3 linked regions of the Homo sapiens genome follow. The gene in region 3 interacts genetically with the main gene of each other region. Each region holds a gene or a part of one and is shown on either strand. Other genes may lie near its edges.

Evidence for each region. Genes that interact genetically often act in the same process or in processes that back each other up.
Region 1: changes in TRAPPC13 (region 3) and ARMH3 are lethal when combined (synthetic lethality), as found in Homo sapiens cells (one study listed by BioGRID).
Region 2: changes in TRAPPC13 (region 3) and EIPR1 are lethal when combined (synthetic lethality), as found in Homo sapiens cells (one study listed by BioGRID).

The regions. Positions count from the first base shown.
Region 1 is NC_000010.11:102,004,150-102,011,173, reverse strand, and holds part of ARMH3 (armadillo-like helical domain-containing protein 3), read left to right. Parts: intron 1-1,150; coding exon 1,151-1,197; intron 1,198-1,724; coding exon 1,725-1,800; intron 1,801-4,540; coding exon 4,541-4,634; intron 4,635-6,690; exon of another isoform or gene 6,691-6,808; intron 6,809-7,024. UniProt on the Homo sapiens protein: Involved in GBF1 recruitment, Golgi maintenance and protein secretion.
Region 2 is NC_000002.12:3,192,795-3,199,818, forward strand, and holds part of EIPR1 (EARP and GARP complex-interacting protein 1), read right to left. Parts: intron 4,224-7,024; coding exon 4,087-4,223; intron 1,373-4,086; coding exon 1,205-1,372; intron 1-1,204. UniProt on the Homo sapiens protein: Acts as a component of endosomal retrieval machinery that is involved in protein transport from early endosomes to either recycling endosomes or the trans-Golgi network.
Region 3 is NC_000005.10:65,620,512-65,628,031, reverse strand, and holds the start of TRAPPC13 (trafficking protein particle complex subunit 13), read right to left. Parts: upstream 3,006-7,520; 5' UTR 2,972-3,005; coding exon 2,926-2,971; intron 1-2,925. Other genes in the region: E3 ubiquitin-protein ligase TRIM23, read left to right, coding at 3,758-3,838.

The sequences.
Region 1 (7,024 bases), on a different chromosome or scaffold from region 3:
GGGAAGTTATTGGTCCAGCTGGCAAGACTCCAGGGCAAGGTTTCTTGGCATTTGGTACCAGATAATCTGGGACTGATTTTGAAGAGATAAATCTAGGAGATTCTAGAATCTAGGCAGATTCAGAAAGTCTGTCTTTCGGGCATTATTATCCAAGTATTCAGCTCTAGGGCAAGACAATTTTTTGGTTAGTTGCAAGAAGTAGTTGCCCCCTCTCCTCCTCCACTTCTGCAATTCTTTTTCCTCCACTGCTTACGAATTGTTCCTTCTGCCTTCTCAGCCTGTTCTCAGGAAGGGGCCTGATAAACTCTTTAACTCCAAAATGTAAATGAGTGAAGTCTCTCAGGGGCTAGAGAAGTATGAGTTTTGTACTGGTGTTTGATGAAATGAATTAGATACAATTATACTGCTCCCAGATATCTCTGCCTTTCAGTCAAGTTTTCAGAAAGTTTTGTACCAAACACATGAAGCTCTAGGAGCATAGGTTTGTGTATAGTTTCAAGCATAATTAAGGAGGTGGAAGAGGTATTTTTTAGTGGGTGTAGGCATCTTAGTGCTTCTGATATCATACACATTAGAGGCAGCCTACTCCATTTACTTATTCACTTGCTCTGACTAGGACACAAACTAAAGATTTTGTTATCTGAAAAATGGAGAGTGGATCTCATATAGACAGCTTTGGTCTGAAACCTGAATATTGTTCCCAAAGATAGCTTTATGTTGGTTGAAGTCAGCCTGCTTCCTGTGAAGTTTTTCCTAAGTTAGTTTCTGACTTCAAATAAGCAACTTCTAGGAAAGATACAGAGTGATGAAGATGTGTAGGTTAACTGTCAGAGGGACTAAACTTACACACTGAAAAGGAGAGTTGGACAAAAGTACTAGGCTTTTTCTTTAAAGCGAGGTGATTTAGTAGGCAAGATGATTTACTAGGCAAGATGATTTAGTAGGATTCTCATTATTTCATTTATTACTTATGAGTCTTTTAAGATTTTCAAAGTGGGCTGGTTTTGGTGTGTGTGACTTATGGCCTAGAGTTCCAAGTTCTCCCCAGGTGGAAGCAGCTTGTTTTCTTCACTGATAAAAGGCTTCCTAGGCATAAAGCTCCTCTCATATCCTCCTGCTATAAGTTTGCAATTCCCCTTTTCTTCCACAGGTGGGCAGCATGTTCATAGCAGATGCCCATGAGAAAATCTCAGTACAGTAAGTGCCTGACATTCTTGTGCAGTGACTTGGACTTTAGTGTGGGCTGTCCTGCTGGATATGAGAGTGTGCAGTGTTACCTCTTGCTAATCTTTTACAGAATCATACTTTTTTGGTGATTTTCAAATGTTTCATGGGTTTTGAACATTAATGGACCCTTAGAAATTTCTGCTTTTCATATGTATTGAGCGACAATAAGCTGAACAACTGTTGCCAGACTATCTCTGCAATGAAACAAAAGAGGGATGGGTGTCTGAGCCAGTTGAGGACTTAACTGGGTTGAGGTGGAAAAACAGAGGGAAGATAATGAAGTAGATGAGAACTGGTCCTAAGGAATTAAAGTGAAGGCCCTGACTCCTGCCTATACACTTTTGCATACGCCCAAATGGCAAGTAAAGGGGAACTTTAGAAATGCAAAGGAATTGATAATGAGGCGCTGGGGTGCAATCCAATCTTATCTTCATGGTTATACTGTTTTAACTCCCCCCACTATAAAAACTGCTCCAATTTGTTCTCTTTTTCTTTAGAACCAATGAGGCCATTCTTCTGGCACTTTATGAAGCTGTTCATTTAAATCGCAACTTCATCACAGTATTAGCTCAGGTTGGTCACATTAAAAATCCCAGTGTTTTTTTCTCTCTAAATTTCATACCGATTAATTCCATTGAAAAGCCTATCTGGCTGTACTTGTTTAAACCCTGCTTTGCATTGGTAAGTGGTAGTAACAAGGAGTTGAATCAGTTGCCTTTGTTTCCTGCTGTCCTCAAATATGTATGTTTCCATTGGTGCTGAAATGGGTCTAATAACGTGCAAAGTTAGTTTTTTTGGCCAATTTATTGATCCTGTTAACCCAAATGAATTGTCATGACTTCATTTTGCTCACTAGAAATCCCTGGTATTATCCGCTATGTGGATTTTTATATTGGGCTTTCTGCTTTCCACACCACTGTGGAATTACAACTGGAGATAAAATAGGCCAAGCCACTCACCTTATTATCTCACCAATTTCCAGAGGAAAAAAGTAAAAAATATCCTGGCCAGGTTAAGGTTAGCTGTTAACAGATAACGTGGTTTACATACATTGAAAGGAAGTCATAGAATACTGAGCGCTGGGCCCTGCGCTGTGGCTCACGCCTGTAATCCCAGCACTTTGGGAGGCTGAGGTGGGCGGATCACAAGGTCAGGAGATCAAGACCATCCTGGCTAACACGGTGAAACCCTGTCTCTTCTAAAAATAAAAAAAAAATTAAAAAAAAAATAGCTGGGCGTGGTGGCGGACGCCTGTAGTCCCAGCTACTTGGGAGGCTGAGGCAGGAGAATGACGTGAACCCAGGAGGCAGAGCTTGCAGTGAGCCGAAGTCGCGCCATTGCACTCCAGCCTGGGTGACAGAGTGAGACTCTGTCTCAAAAAAAAATAAAATAAAAACAAAACATAACAAAATAAAACAAAATAAAAAAACAAACAAAAATACCCCCAGAATACTGAGCGATGGGTCACATGCCTGAGGGATAGCCACAGTAATTGGCATAGAAGAGGACTAAAGTAGACCAAGAACTCAAGAGCTGTCCATGAAAGCCATTTTAAAAAATTGATAAAGTGTTATTATCTTAAAGCCAGACTGTTTAAAATATGTATGTAGGGTTATTTTAAGGGAAAGTTTGCTTATGCTTTTTCTCAAAGGGTAGATGTATATGGAATCTATTGATTTGAATTTTAACACAAAAATAAGGTCATGCTTAAAAAGCATCATGCTGGTTTGAGATCTGCTTCATAGAACACTTAAGAGTTTTCATGACTGATAACATAGAGACTTTAGTTATTATTTTCACTCGTTTCTTATCTGCTCTCCAAATCCTATAACTGATTGTAAAGGAAGAGGTGAGGAAGGTAAAGTGCTGGTAAAGCTGTTAGGGAAGAAAAGGGAAGTTAAAAACAGCTATCACTCAGCTTAATTCTCAAGAGCTGATGTGGGAGGGATGGCTAAGAAAGGTTAGGGACAGAAGAGTCATCTGTTTTGGTCCCTACTGGGTGTCTCACCATGTCTTTGCCTCCCAATGAAGGCACACACACTTTTGTTTGTTGTGGAACAGGAAGGCCGCCATCTGAATAGCTCTTTTGCTTTTTTTTTTTTTTTTTTTTTTTGGAGATGGTGTCTCGCTCTGTCACCCAGGCTGGAGTGCAGTGGCACGATCTCTGCTCACTGCAAGCTCTGCCTCCCGGGTTCACGCCATTCTCCTGCCTCAGCCTCCCGAGTAGCTGGGACTACAGGTGCCTGCCACCACACCTGGCTAATTTTTTTTTTTTTTTTTTTTTTTTTTTAGTAGAGACAGAGTTTCACTGTGTTAGCCAGGATGGTCTTGATCCCCTGACCTCGTGGTCCATCTGCCTCGGCCTCCCAAAAGTGCTGGGATTACTGGTGTGAGCCACCGCACCCGGCTGAATAGCTCTTTTTATAGTACCTGGTATCCCCTTGACTCATCTACATCTGCTAGTCAATTATTTGGTTATCAGAACAGCCTATTGATGTGTTTTAGGTTGATCTGATGAGATCCCAGGTCTGGATGGGATTGCAAATGTTCTCTGCTCTCTTGTAGAATAATCCTGTATATTTGTTGACCCCAGTTTTTTTTTTTTTTTTTAAATGTCTGTGGTGCCACAGAAAAACTTATGTAATGGGAACCTAGTTGCTTAAGATAAATTAGCACACAGAGCTTATTAGAGATTAGCAAGCATCAGTCGTAATCAAGTACTCATGAGAACGAAATACAGAAGTAGTCCCTTCTCAGCTTTTTTTTTCTTTTTTTTTTTTTTTTTTTGAGATAGAGTCTTGCTGTGTCACCAGGCTGGAGTGCAGTGGCGTGATATCACCTCACTGCAACCTCCGCCTCCTGGGTTCAAGTGATTCTCCTGCCTCAGCCTTCCAAGTAGTTGGGACTACAGGCATGCACCACCATGCCTGGCTAATTTTTTGTATTTTAGTAGAGACGGGGTTTCACCGTGTTGGCCAGGATGGTCTCGATCTCCTGACCTTGTGATCTGCCCAGGCCTCCCTAAGTGCTGGGATTATGGGTGTGATCCACTGTGCCCAGCCTCAGTGAGCTTTCTAATTATGAGACTAGGGGCACAGTGGCATGCATCTGTAGTCCTACGTACACAGGAGGCTGAGGCAGGAGAGTGCTTGAGCCTAGGATTTCGAGACCAGCTTGGACAACATAGCAAGATGCTGTCTCAAAAAAAAAAAATTATAAGGTCCAGAATACCAGTCCTTATTGGTATTAGGCACTTGATACTCAGGGAGAACTGGATTTTCTGTTTTCTTACACATCTGTGTATCTTTTTCAGAGCCATCCAGAAATGGGCTTGGTGACGACCCCTGTCAGTCCTGCTCCTACAACCCCAGTCACACCACTTGGGACCACACCGCCTTCCTCTGATGGTGAGCCCACCACCACTTTGTTTTTCTTGGTTAATATGATCTTAGATCTCTCAGAGTGAGCATAGCTGTGTTCAACAAAGAACCTACGTAGTTGTTAATTTTTCCCACTAAATTGGTCTGTAGTACTATCCTTCAGGCCTCCTAAATTTCCAAAGAAAACTTTGGAAAAAGACAGTCCAGTGATTTTCTCTGTAAAAGAAGCTTACATAACTCTAGCTTTTCCTCCTCAGGGAGTAGTTGTAGAGGCATGGAGTGCTAGACCTGCAAGGTCAGTAATGCCTGTCCTGCCACACTCTCAGAGTCCTTGTGAGGCTCAGATGAGATATTTTGTGAAAAATGTCACCTTGTGATTATAAAGCACTGAAATGAATGTAAAATAGTAATGTTATCTGATGTTACCATTTGATCAATGAGGGAATTAAGGCCAGAGAAATGAAGCAGTTTGCCTAAGATTAGTGAGAGTAGAGACTGAGAACCCAAACATGTAAGCAGGATCTTGTCTATTTTGTTTACTACTAAATGCCTAGCATAGTGCCCAGCATGGTACTTGCTTAATAAATATTTGTTGAATAAATGAATGAGAATGTGAACCTGGCACTCACTCACTGTTATGTGTCTATCAGCCACTCCCAGTTGGAAAGGACAGGCTTTGAGTGTATTATAATTGGGAGTTTGGTGGATACGTAAGATTTATCTCCCTCAAGACAACAACGGTGAAAATTTCCCCTTCATAAATCTTATGGCTGGAACCTAAGAAAAAGGCAACAGAAAAGAAATTATGAATTTTTGCCAAAAATTTTGAGGTCTATTATAGGCTGAGTGTGTTTGGTGGAATATTGTAACCTAAAAACAATCTATGTTAATATTTGATGTTGTAGCTCAAAGATTGACCTTGTTTTGGTAAAGAAGTACAGACAATCCAACTTTGATACTTTCTTTTTGCCTCCCCACTGTTTGTACGTGAAATGACCTTCTTTATTCTTTCTCTCCTTTAAGTTTTCATATACCACCCGTGGCAGTAACATTTCCAGGCAGTATAAACAGTACAGAACTATGACAGGGAGGTGCCATTGTTAGTTATATATATGGTAGCAAATTGGATCTGTTTAGAATTGAAAGCCAAATCCCAAAATATCTTTTTTTTTTTTTTTTTTTTTTTGAGACAGAGTCTTGCTGTCATTTAGGCTAGAGTGTGGTAGTGTGATCTCGGCTCACTGCAACCTCTGCCTCCCAGATTCAGGCGATTCTCATGCCTCAGCCTTCTGAGTAGCTGAGATTACAGGCATGTACCACAATGCCCGGCTAATTTTTGTATGTTTATTTTTATTTATTTATTTGTTTTTGAGACGGAGTCTCGCACTGTTGCCTAGGCTGGAGTGCAGGGGTGCGATCTCAGCTCACCGCAACCTCCACCTCCCAGGTTCAAGTGATTCTCCTGCCTCAGCCTCCCTGGGACTACAGGTGTGTGCCACCATGCCCGGCTAATTTTTTGTATTTTTAGTAGAGATGGGGTTTCACAGTGTTAGCCAGGATGATCTCGATCTCCTGACCTCGTGATCCGCCTGCCTCGGCCTCCCAAAGTGCTGGGATTACAGGCGTGAGCCACCACGCCTGGCCAATTTTTGTATTTTTAGTAGAGATGGGGTTTCACTGTATTGGCCAGGCTGGTCCCGAACTCCTGACCTCAGGTGATCCGCCTGCCTCGGGCTCCCAAAGTGCTGGGATTACACCCATGAGCCACCATGCCCAGCCCCAAAATATCTTACTGAGAAGGAGCAAGTAGTAAGGATTGCCTACTTGTCTCTGTTTATTCAGGCCACAGAATAACCCAATGGAAATACAGTACTTTCTCTTTAAGAATGAACCCTGCCTGGTTACCATGGATATCAAAAGCCATATATATATATATGAGTTCCATGTGATGTTGGGGTTTGGATGCTTCAGAGAACTGCCTTTCAAACTGTTCATTGTGAACACTTCCACCCACACACTTGATTATGCAATGGTAGGATTTGTGCTTACTTACCTACAACCAGTGAGCTTTTATTTTTTCTAGTGGGAAGATCAAGTCAGCCCACTTTCAAATGACTGTCTCCCTTGACAAAAGCTGCTGGGAAGAATTATGAAGCCAAAGATCAAGGAATGACTCTTCCTTAGGAAGAAGATTTTAATTTGTGAGGGATTTTATTCTGTCTCTGTTCTATTTGTTCTTTTCCCTGTCTCCTAACTCATTTCCTTCTGTAGGGTTCCTAAGTATTACAACCTTGTTTTTAATTTTTAGATCTTAATTATAGTGGTGTTCAGTAGCCCACTTATATTTAAAGGTATGTCACCAGAGCCATATTTTTAAAAGCCGGCAGTTTAGCTATAACATTTGTTCTCAGCTCAGA
Region 2 (7,024 bases), on a different chromosome or scaffold from region 3:
AGACTAAATGTTGGCTGAAACCTACAGGAGGAGAAGGCTTATCACGCAACATTTCAGACAAGCTTTCTAAAATTCGAAAAAAAAAAAAAAATACTGTCCCAGAAGCAACATGTGGATTAGCGATATCCTGTAATATCAAACAAGTCTCACGGCATCTTCCCAGTTGGCAGTGACTGTGGGTCCTGAGACCAGGGCATGGCGGCCTCCCGGGGCACAAGGGCTGTCCTTGGTTTTGGCTACTGGGATCAGCTTTCTTGCTGGCGTGGGTCCTAGAGCCTGGGAGCTTCTGCCTCCCGTCATGCTGAGGCCAAAACAAGCTCCAGGGCCCAGGTGGCAGACAGTGCCAGGCCCTTGACGCTAGGAGGTGCACCCAGCATGGCCAGGGGCACAGGGAGGCCCAGCCACTCAGACCACAGGAAATTCCAGCAAGTCACTGAATTTATCAGAAGTGTGCACTACCAATCCGGGGTTTTAACATACAGCTTCAGATAAGTAATTCAAACAATACAGAGATGCAGGCCATAGGGAGTGAATGCCCCTCTTTGACTTGGGGAGGATTCCTGATGAGATTTTGGCTCTTACTCTTTCAGACATTTCCTCCACATACCTGTGTCACTCACACTTGTGTACACCCGTGTGTGCACACACGTTTTATTTGCATAAAAATGGATTCATGCTATACATGCCATTGTACAACTTGATCTTTTTACTTACTTAGCAAAAAGTACCCAGCACATGAAAAACATTCAAATAATATGTTAGGGAGAATGAGTGACCTCAGAGATCTTCCCACAGCCACATAGAGATGCTCCACATTCTCCCGACAGCTGCATCATCTCCACTGCACGGATGTCACCTAATTTACTTAACCAGTCCCCTAGTGATGGACATTTGGGTGGTTTCCAGGTTTCTGGCATTACAAATAATGTTGCGTGAACATCTGTGCACATTTATTTTTGTATACTTGAACCAGCACTGTTTCAAGAGAAAACAGAATTTAATGTTTTTCTTCTTTTCCTACGTTTATAAATCACAAACATTCAGATTTGGAATTAGTGTTTCTTTAGGAAAAATAAAACTGGGTTGATTGAATGATTCACAGCAGCACAAACTAAGCTGGTTTGTGTCTTTCCCAATGGTAAAGTAATTAGCAAAATCAATTGCGTAATCCCCTCCTCCCTGAAGCAGCCAGGAGCGGCCCTACCAGTGGGAGTGCTCCTCCAGGGTCTTCACGGGTTCGGTGACATTTCGGGTGTCCCAGAACTTCACCTTACAGTCGTCTCCGCAGCTGGCCAAGTAGTACTGCTTATTGGGATTAAAGTCAAGGTCCCGCACCAGCTGTCCGTGGGCATTCTCTATGCAGTAGATCTGGCTGAGGGAGAAGGAAGAACAGCAAAGGAAAATAGTAAATGGATTAGGAAAAGCCACTGCGTGCTGCGGGCACACACTGGTTTCCCGGGACCCTGTCTAATCCCCCGGCCCAGGGTGCTCTCATCCCCTCGGCGTTCCTGCCCTGCAGGAAGAGGCTGGCGCCACCTCCTCCATCCCAGCAACCCTGTGTGGTCGCACCACGCTCATCTCTCCAGAAGCGTATCTGTGACCCTCTGGGCGAGCCGTGGAAGGAATTTTTGCTTTGTAGCCGTCAAAAATGTGACTTGGTATCATCTTGAGAATGAAAGCATGCCAGAGGGGCTGCAACAGCCATGGGGACACTGAGCCAGACATTTGGACAGGATGCCTGACACATTTCTGGAAGGACACAGTGAAGAAGGAAAAGAAAAAGACAGGGAGTTGAGGTAGAATATAGTGTTGGGAAATTTTATATATATATACATACATACACATACAACACAAAATATCTATCTATATATAGAACTATATATATACAGAGAGAGAGAGAAAGGGGGGGGCAGTGGGGAAGGCCATGGAAGCAGGAAGGGGCCGGCTATCTATCTATCTATAGATATATACAGAGAGAGAGAGAGAAAGGGAGGAGCAGTGGGGAAGGCCATGAAAGCAGGAAGGACCATGCCAGCTGGGCTTGCCATTCCACTGTCCACACCAGCTCCAGGTCCAACACTGCTGGTGGCCAGTGCAACCCACTCGCTCCAGGGTGGGAGAAGGGGACTGTTTGAAATGAGTCACACGGCTGTTCACAGTGCGTGCGTTCTCACACTCACGCGTGCATCTGTGTGCACGCCCACACATGTATGTACACACACATGCACACATCTATGCATGAGAGGGCAGACACGCACACACGCACTCACACATCTCACTTTGCCCTGGATCCTATGGTCCTTGGCTGCTCCTCGCAGGGTCTGAAGTCATAATATCCTGCCTATGGCCCTGATGTCATGAATCCCAGAGGGCAGGTCATCCAGTGAGGCTGGACAGTGGCTTGGAACAAAAGGCTGCGCCCAGGAGAGCAAAGAACCCATGGCCTGGCGCTGCCCAGCAGCTCCTACCTGCACGGCCTCCCCAGCACTGCCGTGGGCGGGACTGAAATCACTCCTGCATCATTTACCTTCCTCACCGCAGGCCTCAATGGGGCTGATGAGCAATGGGAAACTTCTGTGCCTTGTAATTTGCTTCCTTTATCTGAAGACCATCATTGTTCTCTGCTCTCCAAAGTAGAGGAACTCAATTCCTTTCATCTTTTTCTCTCACATTAGAACTCCCGGCCCTAAACCACTTTTAAATCTTCTGGTTTTTATATCCTGCACCTTTGCAATATCTTAATATTTCTTCCCTAAAATATAATACCTAAACTTTTAAATCTTTCAAGGGAAACAGGCAAAGGTAGAAAATTTAAAACTTGGCAAATTCCCGGGGAACTAGATGGACAGTCGCACGTGCACGATGTATTAACTAAAGGTTACTGCATGCTCCATCACCAGTAACTGTCACACAAAAGCATCATACCACCTAAAAAAGCACCAAAGGCATCCTGGCTCCATGCAAACCAAAGCTGCTTGCAAAAGGAGAAATGACAGTCAATGAGAAGGCGCCAGGACCCTCTGTGCTGCGCTGGCACGTCCTCACCACAGACACAACACGGGCAAAATGAGGCCACTGCCAGATGTCACCCATCAAAGCCACGGGCATCTTTTTGTTTGCTTATTTGTTTGGTCTGTAACGTCAGTCTTTGAGTTTCTTGTTTTCAGATACTGAAATTCTTCACATCCTTCAAAAAACCATGCAGACAAAGGACACGATGACCACAGGACATGGAGAAATGGATTTCAGCAGGACGTTCATCACGGGCTGAGTCTGTGGTTTCCAGCTTCTGATTAGGAAACCAAACAAGCCCTCTGCACGGACGTGCACAAAGGAGGAAGTGGCAAGTGATTCTTTATTAGCCCCTGAGTTTTCAGAGGGGCCTTGGAACTAAACCTAAAGTTGTGCCCCCACCCTGGAATCAACACGAGTTATTGCATGACATCCGTCTTTTCAGCTCGGTGATAAATTATGGTGTGCTGAGGGGATAAACTGTATCTTAAAAAAGCTTGTGTGGGCTTCCGTTGCCACAGCAACAGACGTGCTACCATCACTCCTTTGCCTATCAAAATCACAACTGGAACGGAAAACTCGCTCTTATTTGTTCCATTAGAGCTGCTGGCTGTTGGGTATAATTACTTAAATGACAAAATATGATTGCCCTATAGGTGTGTCTCCAGAAGGCACAGCTATGGTCAAGGACGACCCCAGGAGAGACTTAACCTGGGGACTGCAGCTGTCAGCCTGCAGCGGCTCATCAGACACGGGCACCCTGTGGTCCCCATCTCGCTCAGTGTTACAAAAGCCCCAATTCCTAGTTTTCATAATAAACTCCTGCTAATGCAGAGATATCAATATGGAACATTAAACAGCCACCGAGGTGCACCGGTTCCATTGCAGTGGATGTGCTAGCTTAATTTGGGGTGAAGAAACAAGATGAAGATTTATGATTTCCTACAAAAACGAGATAAAGACAAACCATGCGCCCCCAAAGGCATGTGGCTCACCATCAGCTCCACCATCATCCCGGTTCTGCTCGGTGAGGGAGGAAAGGAAGTGGGGCCTGCGCCGGGTGGGCTCACTGACCTCATGCTCCGGGTGTCCCAGCCACGGAGGGTGGTGTCGTTCGCTGTGGCCACCTGGGTGCAGTTATGATGTGGGCTCCACCGTCCTGAGGTGAACTTCAGTTGTCCCTTCCCTTCCAGGGACGCTGAGCTGGCCAGCTGGGAGTGTCACGATGTTTTCCAAAGGAAGAAGAAAAGAAGAAGAATGTGAAGTCTGTTCAGAAAACGCGAGAGGATATCGTATACTCAAGGATATTATTGAAAATAATTACTGAGGATAATTAGGAAGCTCTGTCTTTGTTTCCTTTCCTTAAATGGCAAAAATGAACCTTACTTGGGGAAATCTATAAAACTGAGCACAGCAAAAAATAGAAAGCATATTAATAGGCCTCTATTAAAGAGCGTTTGCTTGCAAGTATGTGATTAGAGATAATCAACTCGAACTTGAAGGAAAACAATACAAAACAACTCAAACATCTGGCTTTCCCCAAAGAAAGCGACAAAACAAGTCAGGTCCACCTGAGCGGTTCCGGAATAACAAAGGGACAAACACATTCACTTGGTCAGATGCTGTCTCCAGTGCACGCCCTCTTCCCTCCCTCCGTCTCGAGGCCCACACGGCCTTCGCCTGGCATTTAATCAGACCACCCCAAGCCAGCGAGCTGACCATGAAGGCCTCAGCAAGGCCCTCTGGGGCTGGTGTTAGGGCTAAAACCTCCCCCTGCCTAAAAGAGGGTGGGGCCCAGTTGTGAGCCTGCAAGAAGATCCCCAGCTCGTTTCTCTGCTCGCCTAGGATTTCATGCACAAAGGCTGAGCATGTTGGCTGCATCGTTATTTCAATTTGGGGGTTGAATTTCAATGCACAGGATGACTGTTAAAGGCAGGAAGCATCCAGGTCTGCCCCAGGGTCCTCTGTCACACCTGCCCCCAAGTCCTCCTGAGGGACACAGTTCCCACCACTAATTCCGTTAACTTTCAAACCAGCTGTGCTCTTCAGAGCCCTCTGAGAGGAGCCTGAGGCAGGTGGCTGGTGAGGCGGGCCTGGCCAGGCTGAGGGCAGGTCCAAACGAGCTGCTAGACAGGCCGTGAGAGGCCCAATGACCGAGCTGGTGCTGGAGTTTATTCAGCATCTCACAAGATTTACCGAGGGGCTTTGCTGGCCAGGGCAGGTTGGGTACCCAGGCTCGGGGTGAACAAGTCCCAGAGGTCCCCACAGAGTGAGTGCCCACTGCATAGACAGGCAGGGGCTCTGCCTGGAAACCACCACTCAGAACAGAAAGACGGGCAGTTCCCAGTGAGAAATAGGGCACCGTCTAAGCCACAGGTAAAGGGCTTTCTGGAAAGAGCGCACTGGCTGCAGATGCTCCTGGTGTCTCCCAGCAAGAGGCCTCCCAATTTCAGAGGTGGCCACTGGGAGGCGTGAGCTACAAGACCTGGTGTCCCCCCAGTCCTATGCAAATGGGCTGTGCGAGAGACTGAGAACTCAAAACAGTCCTGGTCAGAAGCCGAGAAAGGCGGTCATCAGTGAGAGACGCAGACACTGCGCTCAGTCAGGGAGAAGAGGCCTCGGGCCCAGGAAGAGCCACATCTTCACCTCCCACTCCGAAAGCCTGCTCTGATGCTTAGGAAACATTTTTGGAAACTGAAAGCCACCATCCTTGCAGAGCCTTGTTATCGGGGGAACCCACCCCCGATAATTCAACGTAGGTTCTTTTCTATTTTCCCTGTGTCGGTCGGTCTGAGAAATAAAGGGAAAGAGTACAAAAGAGAGAAATTTTAAAGCTGGGTGTCTGGGGGAGACATCACATGTCAGCAGGTTCCATGATGCCCCGTGAGCCGTAAAACCAGCAAGTTTTTATTAGCAATTTTCAAAGGGGAGGGAGTGTACGAATAGGGTGTGGGTCACAGAGATCACATGCTCCAAGGGCAACAGAAGATCACAAGGCAGAAGGTCAGGGTGAGATCACAAGGTCAGGGCGAAACTACAACCACTAATGAACTTCCATGTCCCACTGTGCTTGCATTGTCATTGATAAACATCTTAACAGGGTTCAAGAGCAGAGAACCCATCTGACTAGAATTCGCCAGGCTGGAATTTCCTAATCCTAGCAAGCCTGGGGGCACTGCAGGAGGCCAGGGTGTGTTTCATCCCTCATCTGCAACTGCATATGGCAGACACCCCCAGAGTGGCCATTTTAGAGGGCCCCCCCCCCGCCCCGGGAATGCATTCTTTTCCCGGGCTGTTAATTATTAATATTCCTTACTGGGGAAAGAATTCAGCGATATTTATCTTATCCGTTTTGGTAATAAGAGAAATATGGCTCTGTTCCACCCGGCTCCCAGGCAGCCAGACTTTACGATTGTCCCTTGTTCCCTGAAAATTGCTGTTATCCTGTTCTTAAGGTGCCCAGATTTCATATTGTTCAAACACACATGCTTTACGAACAATGTGTGCAGTTAATGCAATCATCACAGGGTCCTGAGGCAACATACATCCTCAGCTTACGAAGATGACGGGATTAAGAGATTAAAGTAAAGACAGGCATAGGAAATTATAAGAGCATTGATTGGGGAAGTGATAAATGTCCATGAAATCTTCACAATTTATGTTCTTCTGTCACGGCTTCAGCAGGTCCCTCTGTTCGCAGTCCCTGACTTCCTGCAACACCTTGTGGTGGTGAGAAGAGGTCAAGAGAAGGTGGGGACACAAGAGACCCACTGGGGGGACAGGGTACCCATGACTCCATATCTGGGCAGAAGCGAGGAGGTTGTGTCTGCATCTGAGCAGCTATGGGGGGCGTGTCCACATCTGGACAGAGGTAACAGGGCTGTGTCCACATCTGGGCAGAGGTGACATGGGTGTGTCTGCATCTGGGCACGCATGGGGAGGGGTGTGTCCACATCTGGGCAGAGGTGACAGGGGTGTGTCTGCATCTGGGCACGCATGGGGGGGTGTCCAC
Region 3 (7,520 bases):
AATAAGTTGAATCCCTTCTCCCCAAAAATCATTAGAGAATTACTTGATGAGGGTTCTCCCACTGCTAGGATAACCATGAGTATGGATTCTTGTCATCATTTCACAATAGAATCACTGTCTGATTCTGAAGAGTTAGAAGAAATAATTTCATTATTTTTACCTACTGATACTGCCCACTAACAGATCTGACAACTCTCAAATTCATAAATAATTGTGATCTTTAACATCCATATTTTAAATATGGATCTAAATGTTATCATATATACTTTCAAGAACTAATGATGCACTAATGTTTTTCTTCCCTGTTCCTTATACTTTCACATTGTAAAATATGGCACTGAGAAATTCTCTTGTTGTCTAAAGTCAATCAGTGTTATACTCAAGGGATGACTTTTTTTTTTTTTTTGAGACAGAGTCTTTGTTGCCCAGGTTAGAGTGCAGTGGCACAATCTCGGCTTACAGCAACCTTCGCCTCCCAGGGTCAAGTGATTCTTGTGCCTCAGCCTCCTGAGTAGCTGGGACCACTGGTGCACACCATCACGCCTGGCTAATTTTTGTATTTTCAGTAGAGACGGGGTTTCATAATGTTGGCTAGGCTGGTCTCGAACTCCTGATCTCAAGTGATCAGCCACCTCACCCAACCAAGAATAACAAGATATTATCTTTAACATTTTACATATTAAAAGATAAAGTGAACTTAAATGACCACTTAAATTAATACATTTGGCATTCAGCATCAGCACATTGAAATGTGTGAAAATTGTTGATTAACTAGAACAATGGGTTAACTATAAGATGGTACTAAAGAGGTTTAATAAAGTTGAAACTATCAGTCAATTTTGAAGCACTTGTCCGTTTAGGCTGCTTATTGTTCTTTTTTTTTTTTTTTTTTTTTTTTTTGAGACAGGGTCTCACTCTGTCACCCAGGCTGGAGTGCAGTGGCGCAATCTCAGCTCACTGCAGCCTCTGCCTCCCAGGTTCAAGCGGTTCTCCTGCCTCAGTCTCCCGAGTAGCTGGGATTACACCACCACACCTGGCTAATTTTTGTATTTTTGGTATAGACGGGTTTTCGCCATGTTGGCCAGGCTGGTGTCAACTCCTGATCTCAAGTGATCTGCCAGCCTCGGCCTCCCAAAGTGCTATTACAGGCGTGAGCCACCACGCCTGGCTTAGGCTGCTTAAATATTCTTTCTTAGGTATCCTTGGTTTTGGAAAAAAAAGAATAACAGAAAACTAAAAATTCCCAGTGGCAGTCTCTGTATCACTGGAATTTAACTTTTTGTTTGTTTGTTTTTTGAGATGGAGTCTCGCTCTGTTGCCTAGGATGGCGTGCAGTGGCGTGATCTCGGATCACTGCAAGCTCCGCCTCCCGGGTTCACGCCATTCTCCTGCCTCAGCCTCCTGAGTAACTGGGACTACAGGCGCCCGCCACCACGCCTGGCTAACTTTTTGTATTTTTATAGAGACGGGGTTTCACTATGTTAGCCAGGATGGTCTTGATCTCTTGACCTTGTGATCACCCGCCTTGGCCTCCCAAACTGCTGGGATTACAGGGGTGAGCCACCACGCGCGGCTGCAATTTAACTGTTTTTAATAGCTTCTAATTTGTATAAATCACACGTAGCAGTTAATAGAACTGTTCCAAATTCCCATCGGAGTAGCTGGTAGAGGAATTATCTCTGAGAATGCTGCTTCATTCTTTAGGAGGCAACACGGACTCTTGGAAAGAGAGGCAGGCCTTGCGTTGAAACACTGCCTCAATCACTAGCTATGTGATCTTGGAAAAGTTACTTAAACTCTGAGAATTAATATTTACTCCACATACTTGAAGTGAGATTGTGAGATAAAGAACACGACAATTAGTTGCTTTTCTTCTTTTCCCTCTTCTCCACGAGTAACAATCCATTTTAATCTCCATTTTAGTCTAGATCATTTGCTCAGGTTAAGCTTACAGGTCCCATCACTGTATCACTAAACATTACAAAGTTCCACAGTAAGAGACAATCTCGCTAACACAGGCATCATTATATGAGACTGATGAGCTTCTAGAAAGTCTGATGACTACATCATAATGGGAAGGATAAGGCGTTCCTCAAAATGGATGCCATAAGTAAAGTAAGCGCAATTCAATTGAACCCGAATGTTTATTGAGCATTTCCTCAGCTCATTCAAGAAGTCATTGTTAACCATATATTAAGGCATCCAAGAAACAAAAAGCGCATTTGTTGTAGTAAAAAACAAATAAAATAAAGCTGAAAAGATTTCAAATAAAAGGTTTCCAGAAAATAGGCATTAAAAAAATTGTCCTAAAAAAAAAAGTGCTGCTGTTTTTTCCTAAATAATGATCTAATTAAATCACCAAACTTACTCAAAATGGCTGTGTACAAAAAATGAGAGTTGACATTAGATCTCGGACATATTTCCCACATACACAGTGATTTGAAGTAAACTGCAGTTTGTTTTGAATAAATCTAAGTTATATGTTGTATTACTATGTATTGCTAAATTCTCTGCACTACTGTCATGCAATACTAATTTTACAGGGGAAGCTGAAGCCTGATTAACTTCGTCAGTGCCACAGGAAGAAACAAGAGACAGAAGGAAAAAGCACTTTGGATGCCCGCTGTAATTCACAGAGATCTCCACGGTAGGAGCGGGACGTCAGCTTCTGCGGCTAAAATCTCGTGACTGAAGCAGCACAGATCAGAAAGAACGATTTACCAGGTATCTATTTCGTTCTAGAAAGGGGCCCATAAACCTAAAAAGCATCCAGGAGAAATCGCTTCCTCCCGCTTGGCGGCAAAGGACAGAGCAGGAGGGCGAGCACTGAGTGTTTAAGAAGGATGAGGCCTACATGGCAAAGGCTTCGATAAGTAGGGAATGCAAGGAAACAGAAAAGGGGGAATCAGGTTCGCAAAAGTTTACCTTTTAGCGCCAGCAGGTGCTCCTGTTTAGGGGGATTCACTTCCATTTTGACCGGCACTTTTGACCCACAGCCTACGGGGGCTGGACAGGTTCAACTTGCCCCGGAAGGAAACGGAAAACCTCGCGTTTGGCAAAACCAAAAGTCAAACGCACTCTCAACCTCTCTCTGGTGGTGGTACCTTAAATTCTCCTACTGTGTCCTTTACAAACTGGCTTCTTTTCAACAAGTCCATTTCTTCTATCTTAGAAACGTAGGCATAAAATACTTTGTTTTCCATCTGCAATCACACATCGCGACTGCAGGAAAAGAAACCACCCCTAGGTAACAATACGCGGCCTCCCAAAGGCCAACGTTGCCGGAGTTTTTTTTTTAAAAAAAAAAAAAAAAAAAAAAAAGAGAGAGAGAGAGAGTGGCATGCTGGGATTTGTAGTTTATACAAAAACCGCGTTGCATGCAGGGAGATGCCCGTACCCCCTCACCGCCCTCAGTTCACGCCCTGGCTGGTTTGGATTCGAGAGGAAAAATCATTAAAGGATCTGGAGTTTTCACCCCAAAACTTTAATCGTTTTGTCCCTTCTTTTTTTTTCTTGTCTTTCCTCCAGCAGCTGCAGACTACATAATGAAAAATAACAAAAGTGCCCATGCGCGAGGCTGTGCAACTAACCACCCGACGATTGCGGGGAGGAGGAGTAAGAGTCGGCTAAGCGGCGCCCAGTGTCCTACTGCGCCTGTGCGCCGGTGGCGTGCGCAGAGGCCTCTGGGTAGGTGGCTCAACCCCGCCTCTCAGTTGAGGACTCTGAAGGCTGTTTCTGTGGCGCTTCCCCTGCGAGGATGGCTACCCTGGTTGTAAACAAGCTCGGAGCGGGAGTAGACAGTGGCCGGCAGGGCAGCCGGGGGACAGCTGTAGTGAAGGTGAGGGACCTTGCGTGCTCTATTCTCCACCATCGGCCTCCCTTCGGTTCATCCTGGAGACCTGGCGGCATCGCCGCGGCCCAGGCTTCGATAGGTGGGATGCGCGGCCTCTGGGCCCCTTTTGGCATTACAAGTCTCGTCCTGTCCTCTGCATCCTTTCTCTCCTATGGCCTGAAATTGCCTGGTCTTCTGCTCATGACATGTCATCATCGGGACATTTGTGAAAAGGAGCTTGCGGGCCAGTGGCAGTGACCTAGACCGGTCTTTTCTCCAGGTCCTCTGCTTTTAGTTAAACTCAACAGACATTAATTAGCTTAGTATTATAAATTGAGTCATCATCATCGTAACTACGTACTAAGTTAGGTGTTTTAGCTCGTTAATATCTACTTATGAAGTAGATGTGAATTCCCATTTTACAGGGAGGAAACCCAGGTTTAGGTAAACAGTGTGTGGCAGAGCCCCGGGTTGACCGGCTTTAAAGTCTGTACTTTTCGCTCTTGTACTGCGTCTGTAATCAGACATCTGTTATTGGGTGAGCTGCCCCCTCCCCTGTTAGTAGTACAGTCTATTAACTCTTTGCACAAGTCTGCAGCATCGTCATAGCTGGGCATTAACGATAGAGTTTATGAATTTTCTTATGCTTGAAGTTTGAGATTCTACCATGTATACATGCTCCAGAATCAATTTGCTAAAAAATCATTTGAAATATGTGGCACTCATTTTTCCCTTCCACTGTTGTGCACGGAAAGATATGGAGGGGAGAACTGATCCCATTGGTTTATAGAGTAACCTTCAGGAGCATCTCTAATCTAAGAGATTGATAATTCTCATTCCTGGCTACATATTAGGATCACTGAGGAGTTTTAGTACACTACTGATGCACTCCTCCTCCAGTTCTGATGAGGTTGACATCAGTATATTTTAGGAATTACCAGAAGTTATTTTAATGTGCAACCAGGGTTATGAATTACTGATCAAGGTAATATATGAAGTTTTTTTCACATCTTGAAAAGTAGACACCTATGATTATTCAGGTAATGTTGGTTTTATATGACAGCAAATGAGACATTTCTTCCCACAATTTAGTATCAGTGAATATTGGTGGTTGTTGATTCAGATGACCTTTAGGTACTAATGAAGTTATTCTACAGGTACACGGCATATCTGATATGCAAAGGAGCCCTCATTATTAGGCATGTTGTGTGACTGAGATTTTATTTATTGAATTGTGCTTTTGCTAAGTAGAGAATACTTGAAGAGCAGTTTGTGAATTAACTTGAAGTTTAAGTTTTATTTCATAATTGGAATGGGTATCATTGCAGTATCTATTTTTTTGTTACCCTGTTTGCCTTACAGTCTCAAAAGTGTACCAAAGCCTGATGTAACTCCAGTTTCTTACAGCACAGAATTTGATACATTGGAGGCTCACCTTGTTCATTTTCATCTTAACATGTAAAATATTCCTGAACTGTGCAATGAAATAGTCCTTTCTGACAAAATCTTCATGCCATAATTTGTAGTAGGTATAGTAGCATAAACTAAAAAAATCTCACTGTCATTTCTATAGATGAAAGCAAGAAGTATTTATTGGAAGGTAAAAGTTGAAGTATATAATGCTAATACTGTGTAAAATGGCCTTTTGCTTGTGAACAAGTTGATAATGACATGGCTTTTATCATTAGAGAAAACAGTAACATAAAAATCTGATATTGTGGCTAGGCGCGGTGGCACACGCCTGTAAAGCACAAAGTGCCTGGGAAGCACTTTGGGAGGCCAAAGTGGGCGGATCACTTGAGGTCAGGAGTTTGAGACTAGCCTGGCCAACATGGCGAAACCCCGTCTCTACTAATAATACAAAACGTAGCCAGGCATTGTGGTGTGGGCCTGTTAATCCCAGTTACTCAGGAGGCTGAGGTAGGAGAATCACTTGAACCCAGGAGGCGGAGGTTGCAGTGAGCTGAGTTTGTGCCACTGCATTCCAGCCTGGGTGACAGAGTGAGACTCCATCTGAAAAATAAAAGATAAAAAATCTGATATTGTGAAATAACTGACATTTAAAAATGTATCACAGAAAGTTTCACACCTTTAATCTCAGCACTTTGGGAGGCTGAGGTGGGAGGATTGCTTGAGCCCCAGAGTTTGAGACCAGCCTGGGCAACATGGTGAGATCCTATCTCTACAAATAATAATAAAAAAAAATTAGCCAGGCGTAGTGGCACATGCCTGTGGTACCAGCTACTTGGGAGTCTGAGGCAGGAGGATTGTCTGAGCTTGGGAGGTCAAGGCTGCAGTGAACCATGCTCAGGCCACTACTCTCCAGCCTGGCTGACAGAGTGAGACCCTTTCTCAAAAAAAAAATAATAATAATAATAAATAACAACATAAAATAAAATATCTGATTGATTACAGTTTGATTTACAAGTAATAAGTTTGAAGCTTTTTTGGCATTTTTTGAAGTGTAAAATTAAGAGCTTTTTCCTATCTAGGGTTTTTTGCTGTTAACCACAATTCCTATTTATAGATACTGAGGAAATATTTTCTTGCTGTATTATTTACCGAGTTGATGCAAAATAGTCTAGTAACTTTATTTTTGGACCTGTGTTTGGTTTGCTAATCAATGGAATTTTATTAGTGCTTTTTGAAAAATACATTAACAGCATAAGGAAGTTCTTTTAAATCTTTGTATAGTGATGGGATCAGAGATACAGGATTGAAATGAACTAAACAATTTTAATATGGTTCTTTGGAGTTTATTGTCATAAATTTACTTTATTAGAGTATCATAATACAGCATTTATAAAATGTTGCATTTATTTTATATCAAATTCTATTGTGAATTTTTGAGACAGAGCCTCACTCTGTCGCCCAGGCTGGAGGGCAGTGGCACAATCTTGGCTCACTGCAAGCTCCGCCTCTTAGGTTCATACCATTCTCCTGCCTCAGCCTCCCGAGTAGCTGGGACTACAGGTGCCCGCCACCGCGCCTGGCTAATTTTTTGTATTTTTGGTAGAGATGGGATTTCACCACGTTAGCCAGGATGGTCTCAATCTCCTGACCTCGTGATCTGCCCGCCTTGGCCTCCCAAAGTGCTGAGATTACAGGCGTGAGCCACCGCACCCAGCCTATGAATATTTTTTCTATATTTAATTGAATTTTTTTTTTTTGAGGCAGGTTCTCACTCTGTCACCCAGGTGGGAGTGCAATGGCACGATCATGGCTCATAGCAACCTCGACCTCCTGGGCTCAAATGATCCTCCCACCTCAGTTTTTGATTTTTTTTTGTAGAGACAGGGTCTCGCTGTGTTGCCCAGGCTGGTCTTGAACTCCTGGCCTCAAGCAGTCCTCTTGCCTTGGTGTCCCAAAGTGCTGTGATTACAGGTGTGAGCCACAGTGCCTGGCCTAAAGAATTTGATAACGTGAAACTTTCCCCTTTTTAAAAAATGTAGGATAAATTGAAGTATGTGTATATATGAATAATAGACAGAATTATACGTGGATAGCTGTTCCCCAGTTGTTTGCCTTTTTCATGGGGAACCAGTGTTCCAATGTTACTGGTGTCCTATGTATCCTTCCAGGAAGACAATACGCTTATACAACAATACAAAAAAAATTTGCTCTTTCCCCACCTTTATGCAAAAATGAATATATTCTATTATTTTTCTTTTTGTTTTAATCATATGAA